Homo sapiens: one gene and its partners. The protein of the gene in region 1 interacts with the protein of each later gene in a biochemical or structural test. Each region holds a gene or a part of one and is shown in the gene's direction. Other genes may lie near its edges.

Region 1 (3,749 bases):
CTATAGCTGATAAAGATTTTAAGCCAAAGACTTAGAATTGAAAACTAATATATACATACACATTTTACCATAATACATCAATGTAGACCTATCCTAGTATTTATTAGGTTAGAAAGGCTTTTTGGATTATTTTATTATACAGATATATTTAACTGTAAATATTAAAATTTCATAATGACTAATATATGATGGCACTGAGGTGGCTTTAGGAGCTCCTTTGGGGTGGGGGCGGGAAACATGTTATTCCAAAAGTTACATTTATGTCTTTGAGGACAGTAAAGCAGATTTAAAAGCCAGTGAGAAAAGGAAGAAAATCAGCAAAGTGAAGAAAACCTGATGAAGATGTTTTTAAATAATACAATGTAAAGATTGTTGGCAGCATTTATATATAAGGGACAAAATTCTAGTTGAAGTCTATAAACAGTGAATTCCACTTAGCACTTTCTGTTTATAGATTTCTAGCCATCTTTTCCAGATTCCCTCTGAATATATTACACAGGCAAAGTAAATAGAAGTCATTCTTTCAAGGGATTTGGGTTCTTGGAGATTTTTTTACACTTGTGGTAGTGGGGGAGGGGAAGTGCTTATTATATTTTCTTAGTTTTAAGTGTGACCTGTGCCATAGAATATTTCCCTAGACTAATGTGTGGGAACCTCAAGACAAGAATTATTGGTCATTGAAAGATCTGGATATGATTTCAAGTTCTGCCCCTAGGTTTTTTTTTGTTTGTTTGTTTTTTTTTTTTGCATGTTGTCTTGAGTAGATCACTTCTATTTTTCCTTCAAAGGCTGAAAATAACTGCCTAACATACTATGTTTAGTAGGTCCTAAATACTTTTTGTTGTTTAATGAATTTACAGGTAATAAAGAGAAAGCACAGTGTTTCTTGAATGGATGTCAGGGAATTTCTAATTTTTTTCTTTTTTGATAGAAAAAAGTAATCAAAACATAAACATCTGATTGGAGTCTTTCAGTTAGCTTACCTACCTTCAGAAATAAGCCTAGAGAAAGAGAGCTTCATCTGGTAGTTTAACAGAAATGAATTGTAAATGACTCTTAAGAAGAATTGACAATTTTTCGGAATGTTGTACTAGATGTTTTAGATTCTTTTTGCCACATAAACTCCACTTCAGAGAAATGGGGTTCTACATAGTACTCTTGTATCGCCCCTGTAATACCTTTACACCTCAAAATACCAGTTGCAGAAAAATAGAATGTGTTGCTGATGCCTATAAATGGGAAAATCCTGACATCTGTCTTCATCCTCCAGTTAATCTTCATGTAGTTTTTAAAAAAATTAATTCAACACACATGTAATTTACTTCCTTTTCAGAAAATTTGTTGCTAATTTTTATTTTATAATGAGCCTCTTGGGATGTTGCTAATTCTAAAAATATGTAATACCCGCGGTTTCCCACCATCTTCTGCAGTTTCTTTTTCTATTATTTTTTTGGCTACAGTTTTCTTTTTCCCCTAAGCTGTCTAAAATAAGCTAAGAAATGTTTAAATGTAGTTGACAAGAAACACAGTCAGTAATTTATCATGCTAAAATTTCAACATACAAGGTGCAATGAAATCTGTTTTAGGGATAGTACACTTTTGAAGGGGGCTAAAGCAGGGACAGCAAATAAATTTCGTTTGGGGTACCAAATCTGATTGTTTAGTGGTGGCTGCCTAGAGTGCTGTGTTTAGAAAACTGGGAGTCCTTGTTCAAACTTAGCAGGAAAGAGTACTGTGATTAGCAATTTCTGCTGTTGGTGAGCGGTGGACTTTTGGCATGGATGCCAAATACATTCAGTGTTTATTGATGCCGTTTACATGTCACAGGTCTAGATGCTGATACCTCATAGACTAAAATCTCTGCTTTCATGGTGTTTACATTCTAGTAATAAGACACAAACCATAAAATAAATAAAATACATTGCGTTTTAAGAAAAATGGCTGGGCGCAGTTGCTGACACCTGTAATCCTAGCACCTTGAGAGGCTGAGGTGGGAAGATCCCTCTTGTCCAGGAGTTCAAGACCAGCCTGGGCAACGTGGTGAGACCTTGTCTCTACAAAGAAGTTTCTTAAAAAATTAACTGGACGTGGTCCCAACTACTCGGGAAGCTGAGGTGGGAAGATCACTTAAGCCTGGGAGATTGAGGCTGCAGTGAACCATGATTGCACCACTGCACTCCAGCCTGGGCAACAGAGCGAGACCCTGCCTCAAAACAATAGAAGTTAAAAAATAAATAAAAGAAAAATGACCTGATTTATTCAAAAAATTAATAGCAAGAAATAGGGAGGGAGAACTATAAGATTAAAAGAGACTTAAGAGGCTTTTCCACCAAATGCAATGTATGAAGCTTAGTTCTATCCTGCTTTGAGCAAACTAACTGTAAAAAGACATTTATTCAAAATTGGGGAAATTTAGACTCTGGATATTTAATGAAAAGGATTTGTCCATTTTTTCAGGTGTGAGAATGTACTTTTTAAGTGTTCTTTTAGAGATGTATAATGAAGTGTTTACAACTTAAAATGTGATGTGTGGGTTTTTACTTCAAAATATTGAAAGGGAGAGGAACATAGATGAAACAAGATTGGCCATATATTGAAAATTGCTGAAGGTAGATGCTATATGGATACATGAGGTTTCTTACTTCCTCTTTATTTTTGTGTATGTTTGAAATTTCCCCTAATAAACAGTTTTACACACAAACAGGAAAATAAAGCAGGGAAGGGGAAGGGAGAATAAATGGGATATGTGTATGAGGTTCGGAGGAGGATGCAGTTTTTTGCTTTTTGTTTCTTGTTTTTTGTTTTTGAGATGGAGTTCTGCTCTCATCACCCAGGCTGGAGTGCAGTGGGGCGATCTCAGGTCACTGCAAATTCTGTTTCCTGGGTTCAAGTGGTTCTCCTACCTCAGCCTCCTGAGTAGCTGGGATTACAGGCACACGCCACCACGCCCAGTAGAGTTTTGTATTTTTAGTAGAGACAGGGTTTCACCATGTTGGCCGGACCGGTCTGAAACTCCTGACCTCAGGTGATCACCTACCTCCGCCTCCCAAAGTGCTGGGATTACAGGTGGGAGCCACCACACCTGGCCAAGATGCAGTTTTAAAGGGTAGTGAGAAAAGACTTCATTGAGAAGATGATAAATAGTTAAAGTGAGTAATGACCTGAAGGAGGTAGCACAGCAAGCCTTGCAGGTCTCCTTGGAGCAAGACATTATACACAGAGGGAATAGTAAGTGCAGTGGCCCTGAGATGGGAGCGTGCCTACAACTGCAAGAAACTACAAGAAGACAAGGGTGTGAGCCAGGCATAGTGGCTTGCACCTGTAGTGCCAGCTACTCAAGAAGCTGAGGTGGGAGGATCATTTGAGCCCAGGAGTTCCAGACCAGTCTGAGCAGCATAACCAGATCCTGTCTAAAAAAAACAAAACAAAACAAAAAAAACTAGCGTAACTAGATCAGGGTGAGCGTGAGTACATAAAATCAGCATCAGCATGGGAAAGGAAGGTTAGAGAAGACTAAATTGTGTAGGGCTGGTTATCCATCTTTAAAGGAAAAATATTTTATACACTTATCTAAAATAAGTCTTATACTTTAGAGTAGTCACCATGGAAGCTATACACTTAACAATACTAGCATTACTCAATATTTTTAGAAAAAAAAATTTTTTTTGTCGTCTAAGCCAGTTTAAGAGCCACACGTGAAAATAGCTCATTACTTTGTATTTGCTCCTTGTTTTTAAGGAAAAAAGGGG
Region 2 (3,749 bases), on another chromosome or scaffold:
GTTTCTTTGGTAGCAAAAGGAAAAGAAGACTATTTGTTATTTTCAGCATTAATCTGGGAAAGAACCTAAAAGACTTGGCTCCCTTGCAGGAAATATTTCCTCATAAGAAGAGCGAACATGTTAAATTACTTGAAAGAAGCTTAAGTTTAAACTGTGTTAAGCCAATGTTTAAAGATAATTTTTTGATATTACTGTTAAAAACTTATGGAAGATAATTGGGGCAGTGGTGGCAGGAAGATAAAGCTCTTCTCTTTTTTTTTTCTTTTTTCCAAGACTCATTCCTGTGACAGAAAAAGCTTTTCTTTACAGAATAATACCTGCAAATAATTGTGAAAAGAATGGTAGAATGAGAAAAATACCTATTTGCAACCACCAATGAGTAACTGATTCATGCAAGGCTCATCACTGAACCTAAAAGCATAAGGTGAAAGGTGGTTGTTCTCGTGCATGTGAGCAGGATATGCACAAGATTTTAAAGTATTATAGGCTGAGCACAGTGGCTCATGCCTGTAATCCTAACACTTGTGGAGACCGAGGTGGGCAGATTGCTTGAGCCCAGGAGTTCAAGACCAGCCTGGACAACATGGTAAAACCCCATCACTACAAAAAATTAGCTGGGTGTGGTAGTGCACGCCTGTAGTCCCAGCTACTTGGGAGGTTGAGGTGGGAGGATCACCTGAGCCCAGGAAGTCAAGGCTGCAGTGAGCCATGATCATGCCACTGCACTCCAGCCTGAGTGACAGAGCAAGACCCCCTCAATAGATAGAGAAAAAGTATTGTACACAAATTACTTGTGAAGTATGAAAGAGAAGGGTACATTTTTAATGAGGAAATCTGAAGTACACTTCCTTCACCAAGTGATCAAACTTTAGCACCAATAATAATGGTACAAAATGCTAATATGTACCCCTGGATGTGATACAATGGGAAAGGCACATTATACCTATGTAGTATTTCTACCAAAATGCTTAATCTGAATTTAATCATGAGAAAGTAGTCAGATAAATCTAGGCTGTTAGACCCATTCTATAAGACATCTGGCCCGTATTCTAAAACACACACACCCACAGACACAGATTGAAAGAGAGAATGCACAAGAGCCCAGATATGGCACAATTTTATCAATTATTCAATTGGTGAATCTAGGTGAATGGTTGTTCATTCTATCATTTTTTCAACTTTTCTGTAAGTTTGAAATTTTTAAAAATAAAATCTTTAGAGGAAAAACAGAAAGAAACAATATTGGTTAAATTTTTAAATGTTACTTTTCAAAACTAATTTTTGATTTTAAAGAAATGGAAAGAAATGGGTTGAAAGCCGACTTTGTGATTTTTTTCAATTTAATTGAATTACAGTTAAGATCAAAGGAATAATTTCCTAAGTTTTTGTGTGTTCTGTTTCTTTAATTAAGCAGGTGCATTTATTAAAAATTATATAGCTATCAGAGTCTTAAGTCATGTGGGAAGTAATATTGCTAGTAGATTAAGAATACACTCTTTTGTCAAATGAGATCTGAATTTGTACCTCAACTTGGATACATCATATTGGCTGTGTGGCTATGGGCTGGTTACTCTACCTCTCCAAGCCTGGCTTTTTCACTAGTAAATTCATATGATAATCATAATATCTTTGAACATGCTCATGTGTGTGCATCCTATAACCCACTAAGTAAATATCCAGTAAGTACCCAGTAAATTATTATCATCATCTTTGGCATCTTTTTTCCTCCTATCTTTCCTGTCTCTCTGTAATTCTTGCTGGTTCTCTTGTTGTCCCTTTTCTTTAATGTTGTAGGAGATGCTGTGGGCAAAATGGGCAGGGGAGATCAACACCTATTTTCATATGACCTCAGTTTATAAATGCTATTGTTTGAATGTGTCCCCAAAAGTTCATGTGTTAGAAACTTAATACCCATTGCAACAGGGTTGATAGGTGGGACCTTTAAAGGGTAGTTAGGCCATGAGAGCTTTGCCCTTATGAGTGGATTAATGTCGTCATGGCAGGAGTGGGTTAGTTATCTAGGGAGTGGGTTTCTGATAAAAGGATAAGTTAGGCCCTATTTTTCTTTTTCTCTCTCTCTCTTTTTTTTTCTCTTTCACATGCACGTGTGCATGCTCTTTTGCCCTTCTGCCCTTCCACCATGAGATGATGTAGCAAGAAGGCCCTAACCAGATGCAGCCTCTCGATCTTGGACTTCCCAGCCTCCAGAACCGTGAGCCAAATTAACTATTATTTATAAATTACCCTGTCTGTGGTATTCTATTATTGCAGCACAAAATGGACTAAGACAATAGACTAATTTTGTTTCTTTGTTACTTACTTTTAAGGAGATTTGAAGCATTACTTCAAACTGGAAAAAGTCCCACTTCTGAATTACTGTTTGACTGGGGCACCACAAATTGCACAGTTGGTGATCTTGTGGATCTTTTGATCCAAAATGAATTTTTTGCTCCTGCGAGTCTTTTGCTCCCAGGTAAACTGATTGTGACCAGGGTGTCCACAATTAGGGTGGAAAGACAAATGGCAGAAATATAAATGTTTCTTCTTACTCTTCCTTTTTTCTCATAGTAGATGAAGCTTACATTTGAGAGTCCCTTTCTTTCAGCACTCCTCAACTCTTTAAAAAGCAGCACAGACAAAGGACACTGTGGACTCTGCTGCTAAGGTGATAGAAGCTTCGTAAGAGTTAGATAGTTTTGTGCCAACAGGAAGTTTAGAAGGAAAGACTTCATACTTCTGGCTTAGGCTGTAAGAAAGTAATTATAATTTTGAGTTCTTCCTTTTTTTCATCTTCAACTTCTACCCTGATGGGACTCTATAATCATAATTTTAAAAAATTGTATTCTGATGTGGTAGTGTCTAGTTGCCTTCCTTATAAGCTTTCTTTTTTTCCTTTGATGCCTTTCACACCAGTGGTTCTCAACCTTTATCATGCATAAGAATCACTTAGGTTCTGGTTAAACATGTAGTTTCCTAGGGTCTGTTCCAAATCTATGTAATCAGAATTCTGGAATTGGGTTTAAGGTCTATATTCTTAAACAGGTGCTTCAGTGCCTCTGATATAGGTGGCTCATGGATCACTGTTTGAAAACACTGCCTTACTCTCTTTACCCATCTTCATTATAACTTACAGATTCTTACTAGGCAGCTTCTTGTGTGTGCTGTGAGAATATGAGACCAACCTGTAGAAACTGGAATGATATTAAATGAACCAAGTTTCTAGTTTAACTTTTTCACAACCACTTTTTCTTACTGAAAAACCACTTGTATCTTACTTCATTTGTTAGATGCTGTTCCCAAAACTGCTAATACACTACCTTCTAAAGAAGCTATAACAGTTCAGCAAAAACAGATGCCTTTCTGTGACAAAGACAGGACATTGATGACACCTGTGCAGAATCTTGAACAAAGCTATATGCCACCTGACTCCTCAAGTCCAGAAAATAAAAGTTTAGAAGTTAGTGATACACGTAAGTAACATTTTCAGTGCTTTCCACTAGGGATTTGTCATTAAGACTACCAGTGCTTTAAAAGAAAGCTCTTGCTCTTTTGTTTGTGCAGCAATCACAGGCACACTGGCAATAGCTCTTTTGTGAGTTGTTTCCTCCTGATATATTAAGAACCATCTTCATTGTATTAATCAGTGATTAGAGGCAATAGGACATGCAAACAACCAGAGAAGCTATGAAAAAAAATAAGTAAATATTTACATAACTTGGAAAGGTCACTTTTTAAAATAAAATATGTGA
Region 3 (3,749 bases), on another chromosome or scaffold:
ATTCACCTTCAGTTTTTGTGTTTTGGGACAATTACTTTAGAAAATAAGTAGGTCGTTTTAAAAACAAAAATTATTGATTGCTTTTTTGTAGTGTTCAGAAAAAAGGTTCTTTGTGTATAGCCAAATGACTGAAAGCACTGATATATTTAAAAACAAAAGGCAATTTATTAAGGAAATTTGTACCATTTCAGTAAACCTGTCTGAATGTACCTGTATACGTTTCAAAAACACCCCCCCCCCACTGAATCCCTGTAACCTATTTATTATATAAAGAGTTTGCCTTATAAATTTACATAAAAATGTCCGTTTGTGTCTTTTGTTGTAAAAATCAAGTGATTTTTTCATAAGGTTCTTTTACTATTGGAAAAGATGGGCAGCACGCAGTTTTATTTTATTTTTGTAAGTTTTTTAATACATGTGAAAGCAAAGAATACTCAGCATGCCTTTCTAAGTGACGCGTTTGCACCTTTTGTTGGGAAGTACTGTATCCTGTGCTGTTAGCATTCTCGATAAATCTCTCTGTGAAAGTGACTCAAGGTCTGGGCTTTCATTATAAGACAGAAGTCCCCCTCCAGCTCACATGACAGCATGGTGCTGCGTTTCCTCATTGGATCTGGCTGTCCCTGGACACAGGTAGCTGCCTTCAGGCCTGCCACGAGCGGCCAAGGGAAGCCTCCTCCATATGCTGGCCTCGCTGGCCCCTCAGCTTCTTCCAAGCCAGTGCTCTCCAGGCACACTGCTCCAGCGTGTGACGGGAAGGGCCTGGCATGAGTCAGCCTGCAGCACAACCTCCCTGCTCCAGACCCGTATGGTAGGGGCACCCCCTAGGTCTGGATGTGCTGTGGTGCTTTTGGACACCCCCACCCCCGCAGGCTGTGGCTCCTCCTGTGTCTCATTCTGGCCAGGACCCTCACGTGCCCTCTGTTGACTGCTAACGTGGTTCTCTGACCAGGCAAGGGCAGGCTGAGGGGTTTGCCCAAAGGGGGCCCCCTTGTTACTGGCTTCCTTGGCTCTCAGGAGCAGCCTCACCAGGTTGGTAAGGGGCTGGAGGAGACAACTGCTCAAAGGAGTCCAGCTTCACATGCACATGCTAGAAGGTACCCTCGGAAGGCCTGGCCTTCAAAGGTAGATCCCAGGGTTGAAAAGTCAACTTGTATGCATTGAGCATCTCGTATGCCAGCCCTGTTCCGTGAGCTGATGGGCCTTTGTGTGTAAGTAGGACCAAGTGCCCCCGTGGAGGTTAGCATGGGTGTGCAGTCATTTCAGATACTTGAGTTGGTACATCTCAGTAAAGTCTGTCCCGTGAGAAGCCATGGGTTTCATGGTATGGTTGGCATCTTCCTTGGGAGTGGCCACAGTGGTGGTGGCTTCAGGAAAGAGACTCCAACAGGGGCCAGCTGTGGGCCTTGGGCACTTCTCGTTTCTAGGAAAAGTCCTAAGTCTGTAGGGCTAGGGGTGGGGAACCCCTTCGCTGTCAGGATCAAGAGGGCAAGGGGAACTGTCGCTGGAGGAGACATCCAGCTGGAGAAACAAAAGAGTAAGTCTGCGTTGCTGCTTGTGGGGTCTTCCCCATCTCAGGGCGGGGACCGGGGGTGGCGGTCCAGACAAGTAATCAAGGACGATGCCCAGGAGGGGACAGGTACGGGGTGGCAGGAGCTCTGCCGGCGGGCTCAGGAAGCCTTCACCACAGCTGCCTGAGCTCACCCTTGCCAAATGAGGGCTGGGGCAGCAGCAACGCATACACTCACGGCTGTGGCGGGCAGCGTTCTCGGCATATTTCAGGACACCTAAGGAGACTGAATGGCTCAAGGCTGCTGCCGTGTGCAGGGGGCTAGACGTGGGGCGGGCAGGCAGGGCTCCTGGTAACAGCCCTGCAGGCCGCAGTGGAGAGCAGGGTTCCGGCAGGGCCGCCCAGGAGCTTTCGGAAGGCCCGGCCCCGGCCCCTTTCCGAGCAGCCCGGGCCTCCGCCCTGCCCTCTGTCCCCAACGCCGGGAGCCGCCGTTCGTCCTCCAGAGCCCCGCCCGGGCGAGCCCGGGAGGCCGATCGCCGCTCGCGGAACCCGCCGGGACCCGGGCCCTCCCCGGCGCGGGGCGCCCCCGTGTGACCCAGCGCGCGGCCGCGGCGCGCAAGATGGCGGCGGGCCCGGGCACCGCCCCTTCCGCCCCGCCGGGCGTCGCACGAGGCCGGCTCGAAGGGGAAGTGAGTCAGTGTCCGCGGACCCGGCCGGCCCAGGCCCGCGCCCGCCGCGGCCCTGAGAGGCCCCGGCAGGTCCCGGCCCGGCGGCGGCAGCCATGGCCGGGGGGCCGGGCCCGGGGGAGCCCGCAGCCCCCGGCGCCCAGCACTTCTTGTACGAGGTGCCGCCCTGGGTCATGTGCCGCTTCTACAAAGTGATGGACGCCCTGGAGCCCGCCGACTGGTGCCAGTTCGGTGGGTGGCGGCGGGCTGCCGGGGGGCGGGAGGCGCGCGGGCTCCTGGCGCCGACGCCTGACGCCCCCCGCCCCGCAGCCGCCCTGATCGTGCGCGACCAGACCGAGCTGCGGCTGTGCGAGCGCTCCGGGCAGCGCACGGCCAGCGTCCTGTGGCCCTGGATCAACCGCAACGCCCGTGTGGCCGACCTCGTGCACATCCTCACGCACCTGCAGCTGCTCCGTGCGCGGGACATCATCACAGCCTGTGAGCGCGGGACTCCGGGCACCCCACGGCTGGGAGGCCGGCGGGCCCCACGGGGCTCCCCCACCCGGGCCTCAACCTTCCTTTCCTTCCTTGGCGTCCCAGGGCACCCTCCCGCCCCGCTTCCGTCCCCAGGCACCACTGCCCCGAGGCCCAGCAGCATCCCTGCACCCGCCGAGGCCGAGGCCTGGAGCCCCCGGAAGTTGCCATCCTCAGCCTCCACCTTCCTCTCCCCAGGTAAGAGGGCCCGGTTGTTAGGCTCGGTGGACCCAAAGAAGAGCCCACCTTGACCACGGCCACGGCTGTAGACCCTGCTGCTGGTCTCTGCCTGCCTCTCACTGGTGTCTTTATGAAGCTTTTCCAGGCTCCCAGACCCATTCAGGGCCTGAGCTCGGCCTGGTCCCAAGCCCTGCTTCCCTGTGGCCTCCACCGCCATCTCCAGCCCCTTCTTCTACCAAGGTAGGTGTCCCCTGCCCCCCAGGGAAGATTCGAGACAAGGAGGAAGGAATTCAGCCTTTGATGTAGCGCAGAGCCCCAGTCAGCCAAGCTGGGTCAGCTGGGAGGCAGCTGTGGTGGGGAGAGCCTGGAGCCTTGGGCAGAAGGGAAGAGACAGGGACCCCACCTGATCCAGGCTCTCTTCCCACAGCCAGGCCCAGAGAGCTCAGTGTCCCTCCTGCAGGGAGCCCGCCCCTTTCCGTTTTGCTGGCCCCTCTGTGAGATTTCCCGGGGCACCCACAACTTCTCGGAGGAGCTCAAGATCGGGGAGGGTGGCTTTGGGTGCGTGTACCGGGCGGTGATGAGGAACACGGTGTATGCTGTGAAGAGGCTGAAGGAGGTGAGTGTCGCACCCTGGCAGGGACCCTGGAAGGCCATCAGATAACCCTCACCACTTCTCCAGCCTTTCCCCCTCGCTTCCCCACACAACTCCTTCAGCCCTCATTCTGGCGTAGGGTCCCTGGCCCCTTGGTGGTTCTGGGCCTCGGGTAGGTGGCACTGGTGGCCCGAAGGCCTTCGCTTCGAGAGCCTCACGCTGCCCGTCTTCCCTGCCCCTTCCCCCACCGCACCCTGGGGGCTGCAGA

Evidence for each region.
Region 2: of the proteins of PELI1 (region 1) and IRAK4, one has a biochemical effect on the other in vitro, tested with the Homo sapiens proteins (4 studies listed by BioGRID and IntAct).
Region 3: of the proteins of PELI1 (region 1) and IRAK1, one has a biochemical effect on the other in vitro, tested with the Homo sapiens proteins (5 studies listed by BioGRID and IntAct, with this or other methods).

The regions. Positions count from the first base shown.
Region 1 is NC_000002.12:64,137,785-64,141,533, reverse strand, and holds part of PELI1 (E3 ubiquitin-protein ligase pellino homolog 1), read left to right. Parts: intron 1-747; exon of another isoform or gene 748-3,749. UniProt on the Homo sapiens protein: E3 ubiquitin ligase catalyzing the covalent attachment of ubiquitin moieties onto substrate proteins. Involved in the TLR and IL-1 signaling pathways via interaction with the complex containing IRAK kinases and TRAF6.
Region 2 is NC_000012.12:43,768,893-43,772,641, forward strand, and holds part of IRAK4 (interleukin-1 receptor-associated kinase 4), read left to right. Parts: intron 1-2,145; exon of another isoform or gene 2,146-2,212; intron 2,213-2,327; coding exon 2,328-2,473; intron 2,474-3,287; coding exon 3,288-3,470; intron 3,471-3,749.
Region 3 is NC_000023.11:154,018,355-154,022,103, reverse strand, and holds the start of IRAK1 (interleukin-1 receptor-associated kinase 1), read left to right. Parts: upstream 1-2,201; 5' UTR 2,202-2,291; coding exon 2,292-2,427; coding exon of another isoform or gene 2,428-2,505; coding exon 2,506-2,673; intron 2,674-2,775; coding exon 2,776-2,907; intron 2,908-3,025; coding exon 3,026-3,129; intron 3,130-3,316; coding exon 3,317-3,505; intron 3,506-3,748; coding exon 3,749-3,749.